Regions from separate parts of the Homo sapiens genome. Here region 2 is linked to region 1. The links come from fine-mapping of genetic effects on gene expression. A gene starts in region 1. The other region holds a variant in brackets. All regions are shown on one strand. Distances are between the middles of the regions. Region 1 holds the start of SLC28A3 (solute carrier family 28 member 3). Region 2 has its middle 27 kb from the start of SLC28A3.

Region 1 (12,307 bases):
GGAAAAAATCCAGTAGAGAAAATGGGCAAGAAAGTTGAGCAAATATTTAAAAAGTTGGCATCTAACAACCAATAACAGGAAAATTTTAATTAAACTCAATGACATACTGCTACACACCCACCAGAATGGTTGACATTAAAAGGTCAGCTGAATAATGATGAGAAATGGGAATACTCACTCTGCTGATAGGCATGCAAATTGGTAAAATCACTTAGGAAACCAATCTGACACTATCAGCAAAGTTGAAAGTATATGTTTATTCCAGTGGCCTAGCAATTCCACTCCTAAGTACAACCCCAGAGTAAATTTATTACAGATACTCCCCCTGGCATGGATAACAGTGTCCCTAGCTGCAATGTTTGTAGAAGCTCCAAAAACCCCAAACTTAATAACGCAAATGTCCACTAGCAGCAAAATGTATAAGTTGTGGAATATTTACATGGCAGAATCCTGTGCATTATGAAATGGGATGAGCTGCAGTTACATGCAACACCATGTGAATCTTAGAGAGCTGATGGCCAGGCATGGTGGCTCACGCCTGTAATCCCAACACTTTGGGAGGCCAAGGCGGGTGGATCACGTGAGGTCAGGAGTTTGAGACCAGCCTGGCCAACAGGGTGAAACCCCGTCTCTACTAAAAATACAAGCCGGGCCTGGTGGCTCATGCCTGTATTCCCAGCTACTCAGGAGGCTGAAGCAGGAGAATCGCTTGAACTGGGGAGGCAGAGGTTGCAGTGAGCCAAGATCACGCCACTGCACTCTAGCCTGGGCAACAGAGCGAGACTCTGTCTCAAAAAAACAAAAAAAAAGTTTCAATATAAGCAAAGAATACATTTTGTGTTTCTATTATATAAAGTTCAAAACCAGGCAAAGGTACTGCTTGGGGATTCATAATTAGAAGTTAAGGTATAAAGAAAAGCAAGGAAGTAATTGCCCCACATTTGGGTCAGTAGTCACCCCTGGTTGGGTTTACCCCAGGGAAGGGAGGCAGCAGTGATGAAATGTGTAGGGCTGGACCCTGAGGGATGGCAATATCCTGTTTCTTGACCTGAGTGACAGTTCGCCTTATAAGTTGTATATTTGTTTTTATGTATTTTTCTGTATGTTGTATTTCACAACGAATTTTTTTTTTTTTAACATAAAAACACCTCCCCACAACTGCCTTTGCCTGCCCTAGGTCTTCCCCTTCCCCGCCCCTCCCTAGCACCACCACTGCACCAGAAGAGCGTTCATTCTGCTACCATTTTTCCTAGCCTAACTCCCGCTCATAACACAAACTTCTCCTCCTTCCCCAACCCTAGCGTCACCAGTAACCTCCTAGCTGGCAAGTCAAGTGAACCCGTGGCCTCACTCTATAGACTCCTCTGTCCTTTCGGAGTCTTTTCTGTTGACTTGTGGTTCTACTTTCCCTTGACTTCTCCAGATCGCCCCTCTCCTGGTTCTGCTGCTCTTTCTCTCCCTGTGGCCCTCTGCTTCATTCTCTGACATCTCTAACTTCCCCACTCCTTAAGCGCTACTGTTTCCCAGGCTTCCCTCACAGTGGTCTTATCCGCGCTCATATCTATGCTAACAGCTCCCAAATGTGTGTCCTCTTCTGAGCTCCAGGTGAACGTATGCTACAAGCTTCCTACTTCATCTACCCCTTCATGAAGATGCCTGGAGTCAACTTAATTTCAACCAACAGGCCTCAAAGAGAACTCACTCTCTTTTTTGCTCTAACTTTATTCCTAGATTTTCTACCTAAATAAAGCCTTGCCCGAGGCTGGGTGAGGTGGCTCACACCTGTAATCTCAGCACTTTGGGAAACCCAGGAAGAGATGGGAGGATCACTAGAGGCCAGCCTGGGCAACATAGCAAGACCCTGTCTCTACAAATATAAAAAATAAAAAAACTTAGCCAGTTGTGGTAGCACGTGCCTGTAGTCCCAGCTACTCAGGAGGCTGAGGTCAAAGGATTGCCTGGGCTCAGGAGTTTGAGGCTGCAATAAGCTATGATTGTGCCACTGCACTTCAGCGTGGGTGACAGAGTGAAGCCCTGTCTCTATTTAAAACAACAGCAATAAATAAACAAAGGGAATCACTTCCAAGTTGACATCCCAAGCTGGAAACATTGACTCCACACTTTCCTTAAGCTGCTCAGCATCAAAAGCTGCTATTGTTATGTTCATACTATGTGCCAGGCACTGTTTTCACAAGTATGTATATACGTGTGTGTGTGTGTGTGTGTGTGTGTGTGTGTATAAAATGTCCATTATACATATATAATATTAGCTTATTTAATTATTTCAACAATCCCAAGATAGGTACCATTATTATGCTCTTTTACAGAGGAGAAAACAGAAATCTTCAGAGCCAGAGCAGCATTTAGGCCCTCATCTTTACTCCTGAATTTCATTGTGGAGGGGTCACCTCATCAGTATTAGTACCTCCGTCCCAGTGTCTGCATCCACTGCCTTTAGCCTGGTTTGGATTATGACAGTAACTTCCCAACGGATGTCCCAGCCACACACAAATCCCTCTCCTTTTCCAAGCACTTTCAATGGGGCCACCAAAGTAATATTAAAAAAAAAAAAATCAGCCTGGTGCAGTTGGCTCACACCTGTAATCCCAGCACTTTGGAAGGCTGAAGCAGGCAGATCACTTGAGCTCAGGAGTTTGAGATCAGCCTGGGCAACATGGTGAAACCCGATTTCTACAAAAAAATACAAGAATTAGGTCGGGCACGGTGGCTCACGCCTGTAATCCCAGCACTTTGGGAGGCTGAGGCAGGCGGATCATTTGAGGTCAGGAGTTTGAGACCAGCCTGACCAACGTTGTGAAACCCTGTCTCTACTAAAAATACAAAAAAAGTAGCCAGGTGTGGTGGCATATGCCTGTAAACTCAGCTACTCAGGAGGCTGAGACAGGAGAATTGCTTGAACCCAGGAGGTGGAGGTTGCAGTGAGCCAAGATCATGCCACTGCACTCCAGTCTGGGCGACAGGGTGAGACTTCATCTCTAAAACACAAAACAAAACAAAGACTAGCCAAGTGTGGTGGCGCATGTCTGTAGTCCTAGCTACTCAGGAGGCTGAGGTGGGAGGATTGCTTGAGCCTGGGAGGTTGAGGCTGCAGTGAGCTGAGATCATACCATAGCACTCCAGCATGGGTGACAGAGTGAGACCCTGTCTCAAAAAAAAAATCACAATTTGACTGCGTAAATTCTGAGCGATTCCTTCTAAAATGCCTTAGCACACGCAGAGGCCACCTGACCTGATGCCAGCCTGCCCCCTTTCCCTATACCGTGTTCCCTTCCTCCATCCCAGGCTCATGTGCTCTTCTCCTTTAGGGTTCTGAGTCTGTACAGATAGTTCTCTCTGCTTGCAGTGCTCTGCCCACCCCACCTCCTACTGTGACCTGACCATCCTTAAAGCCCTAATCAAATTCTCCCTCCTTTGGTGATGCTGTCACAGACTCCTCAGTCAGCTCAGCTCCAGCTATATATTATTTACAATGCACTTGGTGCTGGCTGGGTGTTGTGGCTCATGACTGTAATCCCAGCACTTTGGAAGGCCAAAGCAGGAGGATTGCTTGAGGCCAGGGTTTCAGACCAGCCCTGGTAAGATAGCAAGACAAAATATAAAAAATAATAAATATAAGAATACAATGCACTTGGTGCAAACCTCCGCCATTTTCCTTAACATCAATTATATTGTAATTGCATGCTTATTTCTGCCTGTCCTTCTCCTTGAGGGCAAGAAGAGCATATTATTCTTTCTTGAGTTGGTATCCCTTCTTAGAGGCGGCCATATCTAGGGGGCAGTTGATGATTCTACTGAATAAATAGAAATAACCCAGTCACTGTTTTTAGGTGTGGGTGTTGTTGGTATGATACTCTGCTGGGTTTGAGATGCCCTGCTTAGAACCTTGAGGCCTGGGGATGCTAGCCTGTGTGTGTGCGCGCGCGTGTGTGTATGCGTATGTGGGTGTGAGTGTTTGCACACGTGTGTGTGTGTACTTTGTCCTTTCAGGCAGTTATTTTTCCTGAACTGATGGGAACATCTTGCACAAAATCAAGAGCCAGTTTGCTGACTGTTTTAAGGTTTAAAAAATATTTTAAAATAAAATAAGAAATCCTTAGATATTCCACATACACGCAATACTTTAAATGCCAATCCGAACTTCCTTCATAAATAGCAAACGTCTTATTTGCAACTACTGTTGAATGAAGTCATTTCCATCCTCAGCCATATGAGAAATAAGTTCCTTATTCATAGAAAACGTTTAGAGGTACAATAAAATGAGATTAGAAAAAAAAAACCCTAACATTCATTTCTATCGTTGGTTACAAAATCCACTCTCATGTATGAAGTGTGCTCTAGCTGTGAAATCCTTTCTTGGAGGTGAGATCATTTCTCTCTTATAACCCATATCACTGACTTTGTGCTCCTGTTTAACCTTTCCCACTGGAGTACTAGCTCCATGAAAACAGCAATTGGTGCTCCCTTCTTTGAGGAACAGTCCAGATGAGAGCCTGTCCAGGTAATCCATAGATATGCATAACCATTGCACCTGCACCAGGTCTTACAGGCACAGGCCTTTTGGGAACCCATATCAGCATTTCAAGCTGTGAAAGTAGTTCTACTTAGTAAAATTAGAACTTTGGTCTACCAAGGGCACTCTTAATATTTGAAGAAGAAAAATGAATTTCTAGCACAATTCACAGACTAGGACAAGGTGAATAAGTAAGCATCCTAACTTATTTGGAAGTCCTGGTGGCATGTTAATGCATATTTAATAATGCGAGTGAAGTAGCACATATTTTACAATCAATTAATTTTCCTTAAAGAAGATAATGTAGCAGGAGAGCTGAATGTCAAACAAGGTAAGACTCATACTTATTAACTTGGCAGGAGTTATGAGGCCTCTGATTCTCTTGAAAGACAAATTGTCTTCACTATTTTGATTTTGAAATGTAGAAATTCAAATTTCAATCAATCCAATGAGTAAGGATGACAGGAAATTTTACAGAACTAGGAGGAAGCTTCCTTTCATTTTTCCTTCTTTTTATTGGGGCAGGTGTAGGGGGATGTTTCCCCCACAAAACAGCAGTTTTGCTAGAAGACAGTGAGGGATCACCACCGTTGTGTGCCCTCCTCCCTGGGAGCAGCCAGTTGCTGTGACATGGACCTTCTCTATTGCAGATATATTTTCTTGCTGCCATACTTCCTCTGACTCTATCCAATTCCATCCTTTCCATTCTCTGGAATCAGAATGGGCCCATGCTTTATGCTTTTCCCCCTCACTTAGCCCTTAGAGAAGAGATCAGGATGTGCCACCCTCCAAATGCCCACATTTTGGCACAAGAATATTTTGAACTGAAGGCTATGAAAAAGAAAGCAGACACAGAAAGAGCTCTCTGCCCTCCCCCATCCCCCATCTTCCTAAAAGCAGCACATTTATTGATATTTCCCTTGCACAGGTGTCCCGCTTGCTCATACAAGGAAGAGAGCAACCCTTATCACCAAAGACAGAGATGCCGCTGAGATAAATCTGCATGAACAAACCTCGATAAATTAACCCTTATCTTCCATTATTTCCACCTCCCACCCCCACTTTATTGTCCCTAAAAGCATAACCCTCTTTTCCTTTGTCTAGTCATTTCACTATTTGCCGTGCTTTGTTTTAATGGTATATAAGCTCCTGAGTCTATTAGGTTTTTCCGTTTCTTTTATGTGAGGCTCTCATACATGTGAGATTTTATTTTATTATTATTATTTTTTTGAGACTGAGTCTCCCTCTGTCAACCAGGCTGGAGTACAGAGGCACGATCTTGGCTCACTGCAGCCTCTGCCTCCCAGATTCAAGTGATTCTCCTGCCTCGGCCTCCCGAGTAGCTGGGACTACAGGCATGTACCACCATGCCCGGCTGATTTTTGTATTTTTAGTAGAGATGGGGTTTCACTATGTTGGCCAGGCTGGTCTCAAATTCCTGACCTCAAATGATCAGCCCGCCTCAGCCTCCCAAAGTGCTAGGATTACAGGCATGAGGCACCACTGCCAGCCACATGTGAGATTTTAAATATGAATAAAATTTGCGTGCCTTTTCTCCTGCTAATCTGTTTTATGTTGGTTTAATTTGCAGGCCTCAGGCACTCAACCTAAGAGGGTAGATGAAGTTGTTTCCTCTCCTACACTTGTGACCTATAAGTGGTAACCCGATGCCTACTCATGGAGATGGGCATCACTGTGACCATGGGACAGATGATCAAACTTGGGCTCTGGGAAGTTACAGGAATTTGTGGGTGCTGGAGTCTGAACTCCTGTCAAAGCCCTTTTACCTCCCTCTTTCCTTTCTTGGCTAGCACCTCAAAGTTTTGTTTTGCCCATCTAGCAGACCGTAAAGTCCAAGGGATTGTTGACACTTGCCGGTGCAGGCTTCCCATCTTCTCCAGAGCGCCCATGCTGAGTGTCAGCTAAGGAAAGGAAGCACACCTAAAAACAGCCCTGGAAATCCCCATCCCAGACCCAGTCAAAATAGCCTGGTGTTTCTGACAGGTCTCCTTCTATGTCTCTGCGGGCACCCAGCCTCGGGCTGAGCAGCATTAATCACTCAGTGAGTTTTGGTTGATGAAGTGAGACTGATTTGCGTAATCCAGCTGCTCTGGGGCAGGTACCGGGGCCATCTGACAGGGGCTCCAGGACTTGGCTTGAGTAAAAGGAACCCTGAGACACTACCCCAGCCAGGATCTAAATTCCCCCATTTTTCCCTTCTCACCAGTTCTTTGGAAAAGTGCCTGAAGATAAATAATGGACCCCTGCTGTGAGCCAGAAGGGAAAAAAGGCAAGAGAAGAAGGCTGTCTTGTTTCTAAGTGACCATAGGGATCACAACACATCGATTAAAAGAGACTTTTCAGGTTTGTCAACCCAGAAGAGCCCAAGAAGAAAAAATAATGGGCTTAAAGTGTGCCGTTAAAAATCGTATTGTCCTGATAATCTCCCTGCTTAGGTAAGAAACTTGCCAAGGGGCTAAGGAAAGGGCAGCTTTTCCACTGAAGGCCTTTAACATAAGAGGAAAGCTCTGCTCACCTGGAAGCCCACGTTGCTGTAGCCCTCAGCTCTGGGGGCTGCTGTACTCCTCAGCTCCATGCTCTTTTTGCTGCTGGCTGGCTCTGGTCTGGAGGTCCTTTGTACCTGGGAAAAAGCACCAGTCTCTGCTGATGTCAGAAAGCCACCTGCTGTTACAGGGACCTGGGCACAGCTTGCTTCAGTTTGGAAACTTCTGCAATAATCTCCTGAATGACTAGGGCTGACACCTGGTTGGGGTGGGGCAGAGAGGCGGGCGGGTTGGCGGGGTGGAGGCATCTAGTGCTGGCCCGCCCACCTTATTAATCTTTTCCTTTATCCCCATTTTTGGCATCCTATTTGCACTCCTGGGGAGAAAACTCTTGTGGTGCACAAAACAGAAAAGGACACTTTCTTTTTCTTTCTTTCTTTCTTTTTTTTTTTGAGATGGAGTCTCAAAAAAAAAAAGGCTGGAGTGCAGTGACGCAATCTCGGTTCACTGCAACCTCTGCCTCCCAGGTTCAAGCAATTCTCCTGCCTCAGCCTCTCAAGTAGCTGGGATTACAGGTGCATGCCACCACACCTGGCTGACTTTATTTTTAGTAGAGACGGGGTTTCACCATGTTGGCCAGGCTGTTCTTGAACTCCTGACCTCAAGTGATCCACCTGCCTTGGCCTCCTAAATTGCTGGGATTACAGGCATGAGCCACCGTGCCCAGCCAGAAAAGGACACGTTCTCTATAGTGCTTAGTGAAATCCTCTGTTTTCCTGTGGGTGGTGTTAAAGACTAGGAGTGGTGGTGGGGTGGAGGGTGAGTGAACACAGGATATAAGGTCATGCCGCCCTCAGTGATCACCTACTGTATACCAGGGATGGATAGATGGATAGATACATAGACAGATAGGTAGGTAGGTAAGGGTCTTGGCTCTTCTTCCGAACAACTCAAAATTCTATACTGAAGTACAGAAAAGTTAACAATTTGTTTAGTGTCATTTAGCTAATAAAGGGATAATGAGAATTCAAATTCAAGTTTGGTTAATTCCAAAACCTTTTATTACATCCCTGCTTCAGACTGGGCTGCTTTCAAAAATCCAGCTTACAGAAATGCCGATATGTGACAAGTAAATGAAAGGTGACCAGCTATTCAATTATCAAAAGTGAATAGAAGTGCTTTGTTTTCATAAAGCAATTCACTTTGCTTTATGAAAATATTAGCTGTAGAATTCTTTTAAAATAGGGATTTTCCCCCCTAGTACAATTTAAAATACTGCAAAACTGTGGACAAAAGAATGGAAAAGGCCTGGTGCGGTGGCTCACGCCTGTAATCCCAGCACTTTGGGAGCCCAAGGCGGGTGGATCACTTTAGGCCAGGAGTTCAAGACCAGCCTGGCCAACATGGCGAAACTCCATCTCTACTAAAAATACAAAAATTAGCCAGGAGTGATAACGTGCGCCTGTAGTCCCAGCTACTCGGGAGGCTGAGGCGGGAGAATCGCTTGAACCCAGGAGACACAGATTGCAGTGAGCCGAAAACGCACCGCTGCCTCCCATCTGGATGACAGAGTGAGACCCTGTCTCAAAAAAAAAAAAAAAAAGAAAAGAAAAAGAAAAAGAAAAAGTAAGAAAATACCAAGTATTATGAGTGGTTATTTCTCGGTTTTTAATTTTATGGGCAGTTGGTGTTTTTTTTTTCTCCTTCAAATGCTGCTGAGTTTTCTATAAAGAGAATGATTTACTTTTATTATTGTTAACCTAAAGGAAAAAACGGAGACAAACTTAATGTAAGTATAGAGTTTATTTGGTCTAAGTTTGAGATTGCAACTTGGGAGCACATATTCAAGTTGCTCTGAATATACACTTAGTAGCAGTTACAAGTAGATTCTTGTGTGTGTGTGTGTGTGTTCTGTTGCCCAGGCTGGAGTGCATGATCATGGCTTGCTGCAACCTTGACCTCCTGGGCTGAAGCTATCCTCCTGTCTCAGCCTCCCGAGTAGCTGGGACTACAGACAGGTGCCATCACCCATGGCTAAATTTTTTTTTTTTTTTTGGTAGAACTGGGGGCCTCACTATGTTGCCCAGACTTGTCTTGAACTCCTGGGCTCAAGCAATCTTCCCACCTGCCTTGGTTTCCAAAAGTGCTGGGATTACAGGCACTGTGCCTGGCCACAAGTGAATTTTAAAGGAAAAGAAGGAGTTTCTGAGTTGTTTACCAATTATTTACATTAAAATAACATAAGCTATTGATTGGCTATACATTGCTATTTGTATCACACATTCTAGGAACAGAAAGGCAGCCAGTCAGGAACAAAATTCCTTTAAAACAATTGCCCCTGGCCAGGCACAGTGGCTCCCGCCTATAATCCCAGCACTTTGGGAGGCCGAGGCAGATGGATCATGAAGTCAGGAATTCGAGACCAGCCTGGCCAACATGGTGAAACCCTGTCTCTTCTAAATACTACAAAAATTAGCCAGGCATGGTGGCACATGCCTGTAGTCCCAGCTACTTGGGAGGCTGTGGCAGGAGAATTGCTTGAACCCAGGAGGTGGAGGTTGTGGTGAGTCGAGTGGAGGTTGTGGTGAGTCGAGATCACGCCACCGCACTCCAGACTGGGTGACAGAGCAAGACTCCATCTCAAAAAAAAAACAAAAGACAAAAAACAAAAGCAAAAAAAAATTGCCCCCGGGCACAGGGTTGAGTGGTGACTGAAGTCCAACCCTCCGTTTCTCTGGGCCTGATAGATTTTGCATTGCTCACATAGCTGGGACTGTGTGAGTTATTTTTGTTTTCTCTTTATCAGTGACTGAGGCCCAGTCTCTCTGGGCCTGATAGATTTTGCATATCTCACATAGCTCAGACTGTGGGAGTTATTTTTCTTTTCTTGTTATCATGATACAGACTGTACAGTGTATACATAATGATTAAAGGCTTGCAGGAACCTGTGGTCTGGGTTCAAATCCTGGACTCTACCTCATAACTACAGCCAACCACAGCTTGAGGGTCACACCTAACCTTCTGCTGCTTTTATATGGCCCAAGAGCTAAGAATGGGTTTTAGATTTTTAAATGGTTGAAAAAAATTAAAAGGAAGAATATTTCCTGACACATTAAAGTTATATGAAATTCAAACTTCAGTGTCTATAAATAAAGTTTTGTAAAAACAGAAACATGGCCATTGATTTATGTATTGTCTAAGGCTGCTATCATCCCATAAGGACAGAATTGAGTAGCTGTGACAAATACCACACGGCTCAAAGACAAAATATCCACTACCTGGCTGATGCCTATAATCCCAACACTTTGGGAAGCCAAGATGGGAGAATCGCTTGAGCCCAGAAGTTTGAGATCAGTCTGGGCAATGTAGGAAGACCCCGTCTCTACAAAAAATACAACAATTAGCCAGGTGTGGTGGTACGTGCCTGTAGTCCCAGCTACTTGGGAGGCTGAGGTGGGAAGACTTACTGGCCATGGGAATTTGGGCAAGTAGCTGAGTTCTCTGTATCTCAGATTCTTCCTTCATAAAACGGAGATAACAGTACCTGAGGACTAAGCTCTGATTTTTTTTTTATCTTGCCCAAATTATGATCTAAGGGGTCTGGGGAGTCATGCCCTACAAATCATAAATTCTCATCATATGGGTTTTTTTTTTTTTTTTTTTGGTCAGACAGAGTCTTGCTCTGTTGCCCAGGCTGGAGTGCAGTGGCAGATCTCAGCTTACTGCAACCTCCGACTTCCGGGTTCAAGTGATTCTCCTGCCTCAGTCTCCCGAGTAGCTGAGACTACAGGCGTGTGCCACCATGCCTGGCTAATTTTTACATTTTTAGTAGAAACAGAATTTCACCATGTTGGCCAGGCTGGTCTTGAACTCCTGATCTCAAGTGATCCACCTGCCTTGCCCTCCCAAAGTGCTGGGATTACAGGTGTGAGCCACCGCACCCGGCCCAGATGGGTTTTATTTAACCCTATATATCATGACTTACTTTCAAACCTGACTCGCATAACATTATGAGACAAGGAAGAAAATAAAAATATTTTACCCCAAAACATGTTTCTTTGACATATTTTGAAAAGGAAACATTGTCATCCTTTGTCTCTAAGGGCAGCCACTATAAAACTTCAGAAGAACTTTGGTTTCCACAATCTTTATCTTAGCCTGAATATTCCCTTTCTATGAATCCCAGGTCTTGAGACAAACTCAACCAATTGTCAACCAGAAAATGTTTAAATTCCCCTATAGCCTGGAAGCCCAACCCCCTCCTCCCCTTGCTTTGAGTTGTCCTGCCTTTCTGGACCAAACCAATGTATTTCTTAAATGTATTTGATTGATGTCCCATGCCTTTTTAAAATGTATAAAACCAAGCTGTGCCCTGACCACCTTGGGCAAATGTTCTTAGGGCCTCCCAAGGGTTGTGTCATGGGCCATGATCACTCATATTTGGCTCAGAATAAATGTCTTCAAATATTTAACAGAGTTCAACTCTTTTCATCGACATACCCATTTAGAAACAGTGCTGAGATGATAAAATGAGTTAATATACACAGGGAATAGTGCCTGACACATAATTCAACATCACCCAAATTTTATGATTTAGCTCTTTCGTGCTTCTTATTGATGAGACTTGGGGATTTTCATTAGTTCTTCCCCATCATTGCAATGTGCCATAAGTAGTAGTCATTGTGTTACCAAAGGCAAAAAAAAAAAAATCCAAGTGGAAGTGAGCAAGAGAAGTACAGATAAATAGACAGCAAATATTTGGGAAACTTTCCTTGAGAAATCGTTAGTTGGAAGAAACCAGTTGGTGCAACCTGATATTAAAACCTTCACCAACTCAAGACTCAATCTAGTTGAAGGTTATGGATGATCCTTACTTTCTGAAGCAAAAGACAGACATCTTCATTCTATCATTTAAAGCCTCTAATTGCAGAAACGTGACTCCAATGCCTGACATTCTTGCAGACACTGCTTTAGGAACTTTTAGAAATGTAACGATGTGTTTTCTTCTCCTTGGCTGCAGACAAAATTTGAAAAGAATGCAACAACATTTGGGGGAGCATATCATTGTGCAAGTCACAACACTAGACAGTGTTGATTAAAAGATACAGTGACCTCCCTCATCCATTCTCCAACTGTACCTGCCAGCAGGAAAAATTGACACCTAATTAGAGTAAATTGTATATACAACCATGATACTAAAATGCCAAAACAATGGTCATATCCAGAGAACTTGTAATTTAAAATTGTATGTTTCTGAAGCCTATCTTTAAGG
Region 2 (12,307 bases), 28 kb after region 1:
GGCCTGGTGACAGAGCGAGACTCCGTCTCAAAAAAAGGTTAAACATGCAAATAGGGTTACAGGCTATTTCAGAATATGAGCCATCACATGCTTATTGAGTTACACGAAGAAGTCAGGAAACAGGATTTCCAACTTAAAATGTCTTTCCTGTTTTCAGAAAAAGAAATGCTGTTCTCTGTACCTACCGTTGAAGCCATAGATGATCTCTGTGCTCCCTCGTGCCTCCTCTCTGATTTGTCAGGTGAAAGGCTCTCGGGATGACAGATTCAGGCCCAGCTCTCCCGCGAGAGTGTTTTGTCCCCTGTGAGGATGCGTACTGCCTGGGCGTGATAAACCTATCTTAGAGGATCTGCCTATCCCACCCTGATCTGTACGCCCCTAGGGTAGATTCCCCCCAAAAGAGGCAATATGAACTTCTGAGTTTTCAGCTGTGGAAAAAAAAAAAATAATAAGCTGGGCACAATGGCTGACATCTGTAGTCTCAGCTACTCAGAAAGCTGAGGCGGAAGGTTCGTTTGAGCCAGGAATTTGAGGTTACAGTGAGCAATTGCGCCATGGCACTGTAGCCTGGGCGACAGAGCAAGAGTCTGTCTCTAAAAATAAATAAATAAATAAATAAATAAAAATTAATTTTTAGTAACAGCTAAGGGAAAGGGTTTGGAGGTTTGCTGAGGAAATGCATCTTAGTGTTCCAGTACTTCGTGTCCCTTATTTTAATTAAAAGAACCAAATTGACTTTTCCCAGGACAACCCGACTTATTAGTGTTTTTTGTGTTACTAAAACTTGTTGACTAGAGAATTTCAGATGCTGTTCTGAAGGTGAGTGAAAGTGGAATGCAGTAACTTGGATCTAGAGTTCGAACTTTAACAATTGGGAGGCTGATAATGAGGCAGAGACTGGGAAAGGGGCAAGTCTGGGGGAGAGCCCCAGGGCTTCATCTGTTAATATTGAGATGCTACTGGACACACAAGTGGAGATGCCAAGGAGGCTGGAGCTATAATAAAGTCAGAGCTAAAGATAGAAATTTAGGACTTGGCCAGGCGTTGTGGCTCACACCTGTAATCCCAGCACTTTGGGAAGCTGAGGTGGGCAGATTGCCTGAGGTAAGGGGTTGAAGATCAGCCTGGCCAACATGGTGAAACCCTGTCTCTACTAAAAATACAAAAATTAGCCAGGTGTGGTGGTGCATGCCTGTAGTCCCAGCTACTTGGGAGGCTGAGGCAAGAGAATTGCTTGAACCTGGGAGGCGGAGATTGCAGTGAGCCGAGATCGGGCCACTGCCCTTATAGCCTGGGTGACAGAGTGAGACTCTGTTTAAAAAAAAAAAATTAAAATAAATAAGTTAATAAATAAATAAATAAATAAATAAATTTAGGACTGATTGTCATTTAAATCAAAGGTGATGAACTTTTTAAATGCCATGGACCGCTTTGGCAGTCTGGTGAAGCCTACAGCCCTCTTCTCAGAATGATGCTTTTAAGTGCATAAAATAAAATACATAAGATTGCAAAGGAAAACTGCATTAAAATATAAGTAGGTATTAAAAAATTGTGATAAAGTAATATAATAACTCTTGTATTAATACATTAAATAACAGATTTATAAATCTAATAACTAACATATTTGCAAGTAGTAAAAAAGATAAAAATATTTTTGGATGTCTGGAATAACTGTAATGTAATATGAACATGTTCGTGAATGGTGACAGAGCTCCAGATATGACAGTACCATTGCTTTATTTACGAATGAAAGAAATATTAACTTTCAGATAGAGATTAGTGAAGATAGAATATTTTTTCCCATTCAAGTTCATAAACCCTTAAATGATATTTAAAGCTATGGAACATGATGAAATCTACTAGTATGTAAATAAAGAAGAACAAGGGTCCCTAGGACTAATCTGGGATGTTCTTATATTAGGAGATTGAACGAAGGTACAGGAGCTTAAAAGAGACTGAGAAGGCACAGGCAGTGATGTAGGAGAGGAACCAAGAGGGGAGAAATCAATAAGTCAAGGCAGGAAAATGTCTATGGGAAGGAATCAAGGATCTGTATTCTTCATAACCTTCAAGTATTTATTATGTACACTGATGACTAAGATTCCTCTTTACTGGACTATTCCCATTGTTCATTCAGCTACTATTTTTCAACCAAAACGGTACAGCAAGCAAGGTGCTCTAGGGCTGGGAATACAGAAATAATGATCACTTCCTCTGTGCCAGGCACTCAATATTCACGAATTGAATCCTGTCACATCCATATTATTATTAGTTTCACTAGTAGATGGGATTAGGGCATTTATCAGAATCATCTAAGTGTTTTGCTAACAGAGAAAAAGATAAAAGATGGCTGTGCCCCACCCCAGACATTCTGAGTCAGAATGGGAAGTTGGGATACCCATGTCCCACTGTGTTTCCAATAAATTGCACATGTGATTAACATTTGTTTATTTTTGTAGAGATGGGGGTCTCACTATGTTGCCCAGGCTGGTCTTGAACCCTTGGGCTCAAATGATCCTCCTGCTTTGGTTTCTCAAAGCGATGGGATTACAGGCTTAAGCCACCAAGACTGGCCTGATTTCCATACTGACCAAAGTTTGTCTTTGATTTTTAAAATTATCTTTTTTCATAGATTTAAAAAAATTTATCTTTAATTTTTGTGGGTGCATAGTAGGTGTATATATTTATGGGGTACATGAGATGTTTTGATACAGGCATGCAATATGTAATAATCACATCATGGAAAATAGGCTATTCATCCCCTCAAGCATTTATCCTTTGTGTTACAAAAAATCCAGTTACACTCTTTTTTTTTTTTTTTTTTTTTTGAGATGGCGTCTTGCTCTGTTACCAAAGCTGGAGTGCAATGGCACGATCTCGGCTCACTTCAACCTCTGCTTGCCAGGTTCAAGCAATTCTCCTGCCTCAGCCTCCCGAGTGGCTTATAGGCATGCACCCTTGATGCCCGGCTAATTTTTGTATTTTTTCAGTAGAGATGGGGTTTCGCCGTGTTGGCAGGTGATCCACTCACCTCAGCCTCCCAAATGCTGGGATTACAGGCATGAGTCACCACGCCTGACCTTTGTTTTGTAAAGACAAGGTCTTGCTATGTTGCCCAGCCTGGTCTTGAACTCTTGGCCTCAAGTGATCCTCCTGCCTTCACCTCCCAAAGTGTTGGGATTACAGGTGTGAGGCACTGTGCCTGGCCAATTACGCTTTTTTAAGTTATTTTGAAAGGTACAGTTAAGTAATTATTAACTATAGTCAATCTGTTGTGTGATCAAATAGTAGGTCTTTTTAATTCTTTTTGTTTTTTTTGTACCCATTAACCATCCCTACCTCCCCTGCAGACCCCCACTACCCTCCCCAGCCTCTGGTCACCATGCTCTACTCTCCATGCCCATGAATTCCATTGTTTCAATTTTTAGATTCCACAAATAAGTGATAACATGCGATGTTTGTCTTTCTGTGCCTAGCTTATTTCACTTAACATAATGATCTCCAGTTTCATCTATGCTGTTGCAAATGACTGAATCTCATTGTTTTTTAAGGCTGAATAGTATTCCATTGTGTATATGAACCACATTTTCTTTATCCATTCATCTGTTGATGGACACTTAGGTTGCTTCCAAATCTTAGCTATTGTGAACAGTGCTGCAACAAACATGTGAGTGCCGGTATCTCTTCAATATACTGACTTCCTTTCTTTTGGGTATATACCCAGCAGTGGGATTGCTGGATCATATAGTTGCTCTATTTTTAGATTTTTGAGGAACCTCCAAACTATTCTCCAGAGTGTCTGTACTAATTTACATTCCTACCAACAGTGTACAAGAGTTCCCTTTTCTCTTCATTCTCACCAGCATTTGTTATTGCCTGTCTTTGGATATATCCCATTATAACTGGGGTGAGATGCTATCTCACTGTAATCTTGGTTTGCATTTCTCTGATGATCAGTGATGTTGAGCACCTTTTCATATGCCTGTTTGCCATTTAAATGTCTTCTTTTGAGAAATGTCTATTCAAATCTTTTTGCCTAGTTTTAAATTGGATTATTAGATTTTTTTTCCTATAGAGTTGTTTGAGCTCCTTATATATGCTGATTATAATCCTTTGTCAAATGAGTAGTTTGCAAAACTTCACTTTGTTGCTATTTTTCCTTTGCTGTGCAGAAGTTTTTTTTAAGTTGATATAACCCCATTTGTTCACTTTTGCTTTGGTTGCCTGTGCTTGTGGGGTATTTCTCAAGAAATTTTCGCCCATAACAATGTCCTGGAGATTTTTCCCAAACTTTTCTTGTAGTAGTTTCATAGATTTAAGTCTAATCCATTTTGATTTATTTTTGTATATGGGGAGAGATAGGGTTCTAGTTTCATTCTTCTGCATATGGATATCCAGTTTTTTATTCTTTTACTGTCTCTGTATATTTTCAGACAAGATTGGGTGTGCTCGAAGACTGGGCGTGGTGGCTTACACCTGTAATCCCAGTACTATGGGAGGCTGAGGTGGGAGGATCACCTGAGGTTGGGAGTTCGAGACCAGCCTGACCAACATGGAGAAACCCTGTCTCTACTAAAAATACAAAATTAGCCAGGCGTGGTGGCACATGCCTGTAATCCCAGCTACTTGGGAGGCTGAGGTGAGAGAATTGCTTGAACCCAGGAGGCAGAGGTTGTGGTGAGCCAAGATCGTGCCATTGCACTCCAGCCTGGGCAACACGAGTGAAACTCCATCTCAAAACAAAAAAACAAAAAAAAGATTGGGTGCATTCGGGGTGGTATGGCTGTAAACTGACTGTATTTTCAAACAGCCTGGCTTCAAGCTCACTAATTCTTTCTTCTGCTTGATCAATTCTGCTATTAAGATTCTGATGCATTCTTCAATATGCCAGTTGCATTTTTCAGCTCCAGAATTTCTGCTTATTTTAAACTATTTCAATCTCTGTGTTAAATTTGTCTGATAGAGTTCTGACCCTTCTGTGTTATCTTGAATCTCTTTTAGTTTCCTCAACACAGCTATTTTGATTTTTCTGTCTGAAAGGCCAAATATCTCTGTTTCTCCAGGATTGGTCCATGTTGGCTTATTTAGTTCATTTGGTGAAGTCTTGTTTTCCTGGATGGTGTTGATGCTAGTAGATGTTCTTTGGTGTCTGGGCATTGAAGAGTTAAGTGTTTATTGTAGTCTTCACTGTCTGGGCTTGTTAGTACCTGTCCTTCTTGGGAAGGGTTTCCAGATATTTGAAAGGTCTAGAGTGTTGTAATCTAAGCTATATCTGCTTTGGGGGACACCCCAAGCTCAGCAACACTGTGGTTCTTGCAGACTTGTAGAGGTACTTCCTTGATGGTCTTGGACAAGATCTAGGAGAATTCTTTGAATTACCAAGCAGAGACTCTTGTTCTCTTCCCTTACTTTCTCCCAAACAAACAGAATCTCTCTCTCTGTTCTGAGCCACCTAAAGCTGGGGGTGGAGCGACACAAGCACCTCTGTGGCCACCACCACTGTGACTGTGCTGGGTCAGCCCTGAAGCCAGCACAGCCCTGAGTCTCACCCAAGACCTTCTGTAACCACTTCCTGGCTACTGCCTATGTTCTGTCAAGGCCCTGGGGCTCTACAGTCAACAGGTGACAAGGCTAGTCAGGCCTGTGTCCTTCCCTTCAGGTCAGCAAGCTCCCCCAGGCCTTTGGTGGGTCCAGAGGTGCTGTCTGGGCCTCAGGGAGTAGAATGAAAACCTTAGAAGTCTACCTGCACTGTGGCTGAGCTGGCACTCAAACCATAAGACACAGTGCTTCCCACTCTTCCCTCCCTTTTCCAAAGGCAGAGGAGCCTCACTTCATAGCCACCACCACCGCAGGCCACGGGGAGTACTCCACAGGAAGTACTGCCATACTACCGCCAATATTCTCTTAAGGCCCAAAGTCTCTTAAGTCAGCTGGTGGTGAATGCTGCCTGGCCTGGGACTCACCCTTCAGGGCAATGGGCTCCCCTCTGGCCCAGGGCAGGTCCAGAGATATCCACAAGCCAGGTCCTGAAATATGTGACCCCAAAAGCCTGCCTGGTGCTTTGCCCATTTGTGGCTGTGCTGGTATCTGAAGCTAGCAAGTTTCAGAGGCTCACCCTAGGCCCTTGATTGAAGGGGTCCTGCCCCTCCACACCTGTGGGTGTTTCTCGTCAGGTGGAGACGAGAGACTGAGAAAAGAAATAAGACACAGAGACAAAGCATAGAGAAAGAACAGTGGGCCCAGGGGACCCGCACACTCAGCATGCGAGGACCTGCACCGGCGCTGGTCTCTGAGTTCCCTCAGTATTTATTGATTTCTATTTTTTACTATCTCGGCAAGGGGAGTGTGGCAGGAGAACAGAGTGATGATGGGGAGAAGGTCAGCAGGAAAACATATGAGCAAGTAATCTGCATCATAAATAAGTTCAAGGGAAGGTACTGTGCCCGGATGTGCACGTAGGCTAGATTTATGTTTCTCTTTACCCAAACATCTCAGTGTAGCAAAGAGTAACAGAGCAGTATCACTGCCAGCATATCTCGCCTCCAGCCATAGGGCGGTTTTCTCCATCTCAGAGTAGAATGAATGGTCGGCTTCACACGGAGACATTCCATTCTCAGGGACATGCGGGAAACAGAGGCCTTCCTCTTATCTCAACCGCAAAGAGGCCTTCCTCTCTTACTAATCCGCCTCAGCACAGACCCTTTATGGGTGTCGGGTTGGGGGATGGTAAGGTCTTTCTCTTCCCATGAGGCCATATCTCAGGCTGTCTCAGTGGGGGGAAACCTTGGACAATACCCAGGCTTTCTTGGGCAGAGGTCCCTGTGGCTTTCCACAGTGCATCGTGTCCCTGGTTAATAAAGGACGGAGAATGGAGATGACTTTTACCAAGCATACTGCCTGCAAACATATTGTTAACAAAGCACATCCTGCACAGCCCTAAATCCCTTAAACCTTGATTCAATACAGCACATGTTTCTATGAGCACAGGGTTGGGGCTAAAGTTACAGGTTAACAGCATCTCAAAGCAGAACAATTTTTCTTAATATGATCAAAATGGAGTTTCTTATGTCTTTCTTTTACTACATAGACACAGTAACAGTCTGATCTCTCTTCTTTTCCCCCACACTGATACAGTACCTGGGTATCGCTGCTGGTTGTTCAGGTCCCAAGCGCTCTTCATTTAGCAGATGCTGAATGCTGGC[C/T]GGACTGGGTCCTTTCCTTCAAGGTGGCAGGTTCACTTCTGACTCAGGGTGTGTCTAGAAATGTCATCTGGGAGCTGGGGCCTGGAATGGGGGCCTCACAACTCTGCCCAGTGCCCTATCCTGCTGTGGCTGAGTTGGCATCCAAGATGCAAGACAAAGTCCTCCCCACTCTTCCTTCTCTCCTCAAGAGGAAGGAAGGAGTGTCTTATGCAGCGGAGGGCTGTGCAGCCTGGAGTTAGAGGAGGGGCACCCCAGCTGGTGTCTCAGTATGTCACATGCCACACCCCTGCCCCCCCACCAAGTCCACTGTCTCTGGGCCCAGTTCAGCCCTAGGACATGAAGTCATGTCAGAAGAACTGCAGGCTGGTCAGGGTGGAGGAACTGGGGAGAGGGGGTAGAAGATGAAGTCATGCCAGGCGTGGTGGCTCACATGTGTTATCCTAGCATTTTGAGAGGCCGAGGCAGGTGGATCACTTGAGGTCAGGAGTTTGAGACCAGCCTGGCCAACATGATGAAACCCTGTCTCTACTAAAAATACAAAAATTAGCCGGGCATGGTGCTGGGCACCTATAATCCCAGCTACTCAAGAGGCTGAGGAAGGAGAATTGCTTGAACCCGGAGCGGGGCGGAGGTTGCAGAGAGCAAAGATCATGCCACTGCACTCCAGCCTGGGCGACAGAGCAAAACTCTGTCTCAAAAAAAAAAAAAAAGAAGATGCAGTCAGATGAAGATGGACTCTGTAGGGCATGGCATGATCACATTTACTTTTTTTTTTTTTTTTTTTTTGCCTAAGATTTGCAGCCCTTACGGCCTAGACTGTCTTTAAGGTTTTTTAGAGTCCCAGAGCACTGTAGCCCTCAGTGGTGAGGTTTGTGGGAACTCAAGTTCAGACAGCTGGAATAGGCGATTCCCCTCTGGCTAGGGCTGGTTTGAATGCTCCCCCAATAGGTGGGTGTTAGCTGAGTTTGGTTTAGTTTTCCTTTCTGCTCTAACAGAACAGCACTGAGTTCAATGCCTTACAACTGCTGTTTACTCCCTCCCTCAGTGCCCAGAGACGCGCTCCGCACCATGCTACTGCTGGGGTCAAGCGTGGAATGGAGGGGTGGGGGTACTTTGAGGGCTCATGTGATTTTTTGGTTCTTTTTTTTTTAACTTTTAAGTTCAGGGGTAATGTGCAGGTTTGTTATATAGGTAAACTTGTGTCACAGCGGTTTGTTGTACAGATTATTTCATCACCCAAGTATTAAACCTATTATCCATTTGTTATTTTTCCTGATCCTCTCCTTCCTCCAGCCCTCCACCCTCCAGTAAGCCCCGGTGTCTGTTGTTCCCCTCTTTATGTCCATATGTTCTCATCATTTAGTCCCCACTTATAAGTGAGAACATGTAGTATTTGGTTTTCTGTTCCTGCATTAGTTTGCTAAGGATAATGGCCTCCAGCTCCATCCATGTTCCTGCAAAGGATATGATGTCATTCTTTTTTATGGATGCATAGTATGCTATGGTGTATAGATATTGTATTTTTTTAATCCAATCTACTATTCATGAGCATTGAGGTTGAGTCCATGTCTTTGCTGTTGTTAACAGTGCTGCAATGAACATATGTGTGCATGTGTCTTTATAATAGAAGGATTATATTTCTTTGGGTATATACCCAGAAATGGGATTGCTGCATCAAATGGTAGTTCTCTTTTTAGATCTTTGAGGAATTGCCACGCTGTTTTCCACAATGGCTGAACTAATTTACACACCCACCAACAGTGTATAAGCATTCCTTTTTCTCTACAACTTCACCAACCCCTGTTACTTTTTGTGTTTTTAATAATAGCCACTCTGACTGGTGTGAGATGGTATCCATCGTGGTTTTGATTTGCATTTCTCTAATGGTCAGTGATGTTGAGCTTTTTTTCACATGCATGTTGGCCACATATATGTTTCTTTTGAAAAGTGTCTGTTCATGTCCTTTGCCCACTGTTTAATGGGGTTGTTTGTCTTCTTGTAAAATTTAAGTGCCTTATAGATGCTGGATAATAGACCTTTGTCAGATGCATAGTTTGCGAAATGTTTCTCCCATTCTGTGGGTTGTCTTTTTACTCTGTTGATGGTTTATTTTGCTGTGGAGAAGCTCTTTAGTTTAATTAGATCTCGTTTGTCAATTTTTGCTTTTGTTGCAATTGCTTTGGGCATTTTCATCATGTAATTTTTGCCTGTTCCTATGTCCATAATGGTATTGTCTAGGTTGTCTTCCAGGGTTTTTATAGTTCTTAGTTTCACATTTAAGCCTTTAATTCATCTTGAGTTAATTTTTGTATGTAGTGTAAGGAAGAGGTCCAGTTTCAATAGTCCGCACATGGCTAGCCAGTTATTCTAGCACCATTTACTGAATAGGGAGTCCTTTCCCCAGTGCTTGTTTTTGTTGACTTTGTCGAAAATTAGATGGTTGTAGATGTGTTGTCTCATTTCTGGGCTCTATATTCTGTTCCATTGGTCTATCTGTCTGTTTTTGTACAAGTACCATGCTATTTGGTTACTGTAGCCCTGATGTATAGTTTGTAGTAGTATAGTTTGAAGTTGGGTAGCGTGATGCCTCCAGCTTTATTCTTTTTGCTTAGAATTGCCTTGGTTATTTGAGGTCTTTTTTTGGTACCCTTTGATTTTTTTTTTTTTTTCCAAAATGGAGTTTTACTCTTGTCACCCAGGCTGGGGCACAACGGCGTGATCTTGGCTCACTGCAACCTCTGCCTCCTGGGTTCAAGCGATTCTCCTGCCTCAGCCTCCCGAGTAGCTGGGATTACAGGAGTGGGCCACCACTCCCAGCTAATTTTTGTATTTTTAGTAGAGACGGGGTTTCACTATGTTGGCCAGGCTGGTCTTGAACTCCTGACCTCAGATTATCACCTGTCTTGGCCTCCGAAAGTGCTGGGATTACAGTTGTGACCCACAGCACCCAGCCCATATGAATTTTAAAATAGTTTTTTCTAGTTCTGTAAAGAATATCACTGGTCGTTTGATAGGAATAGCACTAAATCTATAAATTCAATGAGCAGTATGGCCATTGTAACAATATTGATTCTTCCTATGAATAAGCATGGAATGTTTTCCCATTTAAGGAGTTTTTTTTTTGGGGAGGGGATAATTGGTGGAGCCTTTTATTCTGCCAACTTGCTCTGCTTCCCTCATAGATTTTTTAAAAATTAAAATTTAAAAAAGAAACTAAAAAAATACTTTTAAGAGAGAAAAGAAACAGCAAATATAACAAATGGGTTCACTGTATTATGCTAAAAGTGGTAAGTGCTGTGGAAAAAAAGGAAAAAGTTGGGTAGAGGAAGGGATTTTGAAATGCCAGGGGGCAGGAGGGCTCATATTTCTCAGTATTCATAGGGTGAACTCACTGAGGTTGTGCAAGAAGATATCTGTGGTCAAAGTACTGGCAAGAACTGTTAAAAACGCCCTAACGTGGGAGCATGAAGTTGTGTCAGAAGTACTGCAGCCTGGTCAGGGTGGAGGAGCTGGGGAGAGGGAGTAGAAGATGAAGTCAGATGAAGATGGACTCTGTAGGGCATGGCATGATCAAATTTACTTTTTTTTTTTTGTTTTGAGACAGAGTCCCACTCTGCTGCCGGGACTGGAGTGCAGTGGCTGTGATCTCGGCTCACTGCAACCTCCGCCTCCTGGGTTCAGGAAATTCTCCTGCCTCAGCCTTCCAAGTAGCTGGGATTACAGTCACGCTCTATCACGCCTGGCTAATTTTCGTAGTTTTGGTAGAGACGGAGTTTTGCCATATTGGCCAGGCCGTTCTCAAATCCCTGACCTCAAGTGATCCACCCGCCTTGGCCTCCCAAAGTGCTGGGATTACAGGTATGAGCCACTGCTCCCGGCCTCCAAATTTACATTTTAAAATCAGCACTCAGCTGCTGTACTGAGAGTAAACTAACTGAACCCATGTCTTCTTGGCCTATGTGCTTCTAGGGCCACCTTCTGCTTTGGATTAGCTTAAGCAAAACTAATGAGCTCTAAATACAAGCCCTGTCTGGCCTGGTTTTAGGCGATGTCAGATCTTTAGTTTCCCCTAGTAGCCCTAATTTATCTTTATTTTTGCTCATGACACTCTCAGCTTTCAACTTAGCATTGCTGGTGGGTTATAGTTAGGGTTTGTCGTTTTCATAAAACTCTTCGTTCTATTTAGTTACAGTACATCTGTTTCTTATGAAAGATTAATTTTATGCATCTTTAAATCTTTGAAAACATAGCCTTGCCTCATGCTGGTTCTCGTCCACCCCTGTAGGCCTGATAAATGTTGGAGAAAACTTTGACAGCATAATTAAGGCATAATTTTATTCTATTTTTTTAACCTCTGTCACTCAAAAAAAAAGTGCAAAATAGAATTTATATGGCTGGAAGAACAAGGTGGCAGTGATTTATTTATGCCAGACCAGAGGAGGATATTGATATTTATTAAAATAAAATACTAAGATGGTAAATGGTCTACTAATCAGAACCTGGTTAACATCATGTGCCTGAGCAGGTGGGGTAGAGACAGGCAGAGCCCTGGAGATTGCTCTTATTTCAAATACAAGGGATACAGGGTCAGAGGGAAAGGATTTCGTTAGAAAAAGAGAATGCTCGCATTTACTCAGAGCGGACTGTTTGCTGAGCTCTCTGGCTGGACCTAGGAGCTAATGCCTTGTCTATGGAATCGTGGCTGAATTCCTACCCACAGCCTTCTTGGTCCTCTCTGGCCTTCTACTGCCTTTACAGATTGATCGTGGGGTGCAGTGGACCCTTTAGCACTTTGGAATTCTCTTAACCCACCCTGTACTGTCTCCAAATGGTTGCCTTAACTCAAGTCTACAGTGTTGTAAAATCTTTTGTCCTCAAAGGCACAAGACGTTCTGAATTGGCCCCTTCAGTGTATTTCCAGGGTACTTTGTAATGACAGGAATGGTTCATCATTGAGTGGTAAGGTCCTGTAGCATATTCCTTATATGCATGTTTCATTCATTCCTCTCATTAATGATATGAGACAAGTCCCTTCCCTTCCCTTCCCTTCCCTTCCCTTCCCTTCCCTTCCCTTCTCTTCTCTTCCCTTCCCTTCCTTTCCCTTC

The links. PIP is the estimated chance that this variant, and not a neighbour inherited with it, causes the effect.
Region 2: its variant is fine-mapped to the expression of SLC28A3 in whole blood (TOPMed, PIP above 0.99).

What each region holds. Positions count from the first base shown.
Region 1 is chr9:84,333,507-84,345,813 of GRCh38, forward strand. SLC28A3 (solute carrier family 28 member 3) reads right to left here and starts at 7,252. Exons shown (of 18, transcript NM_001199633.2): 1 at 7,068-7,252. The coding sequence starts at 7,127.
Region 2 is chr9:84,361,315-84,373,621 of GRCh38, forward strand. It overlaps a transcript of SLC28A3 not described here. Among named protein-coding and RNA genes, the nearest start is that of SLC28A3, 27 kb to the left of the region's middle. The variant C/T (reference allele first, on the strand shown) is at 7,203.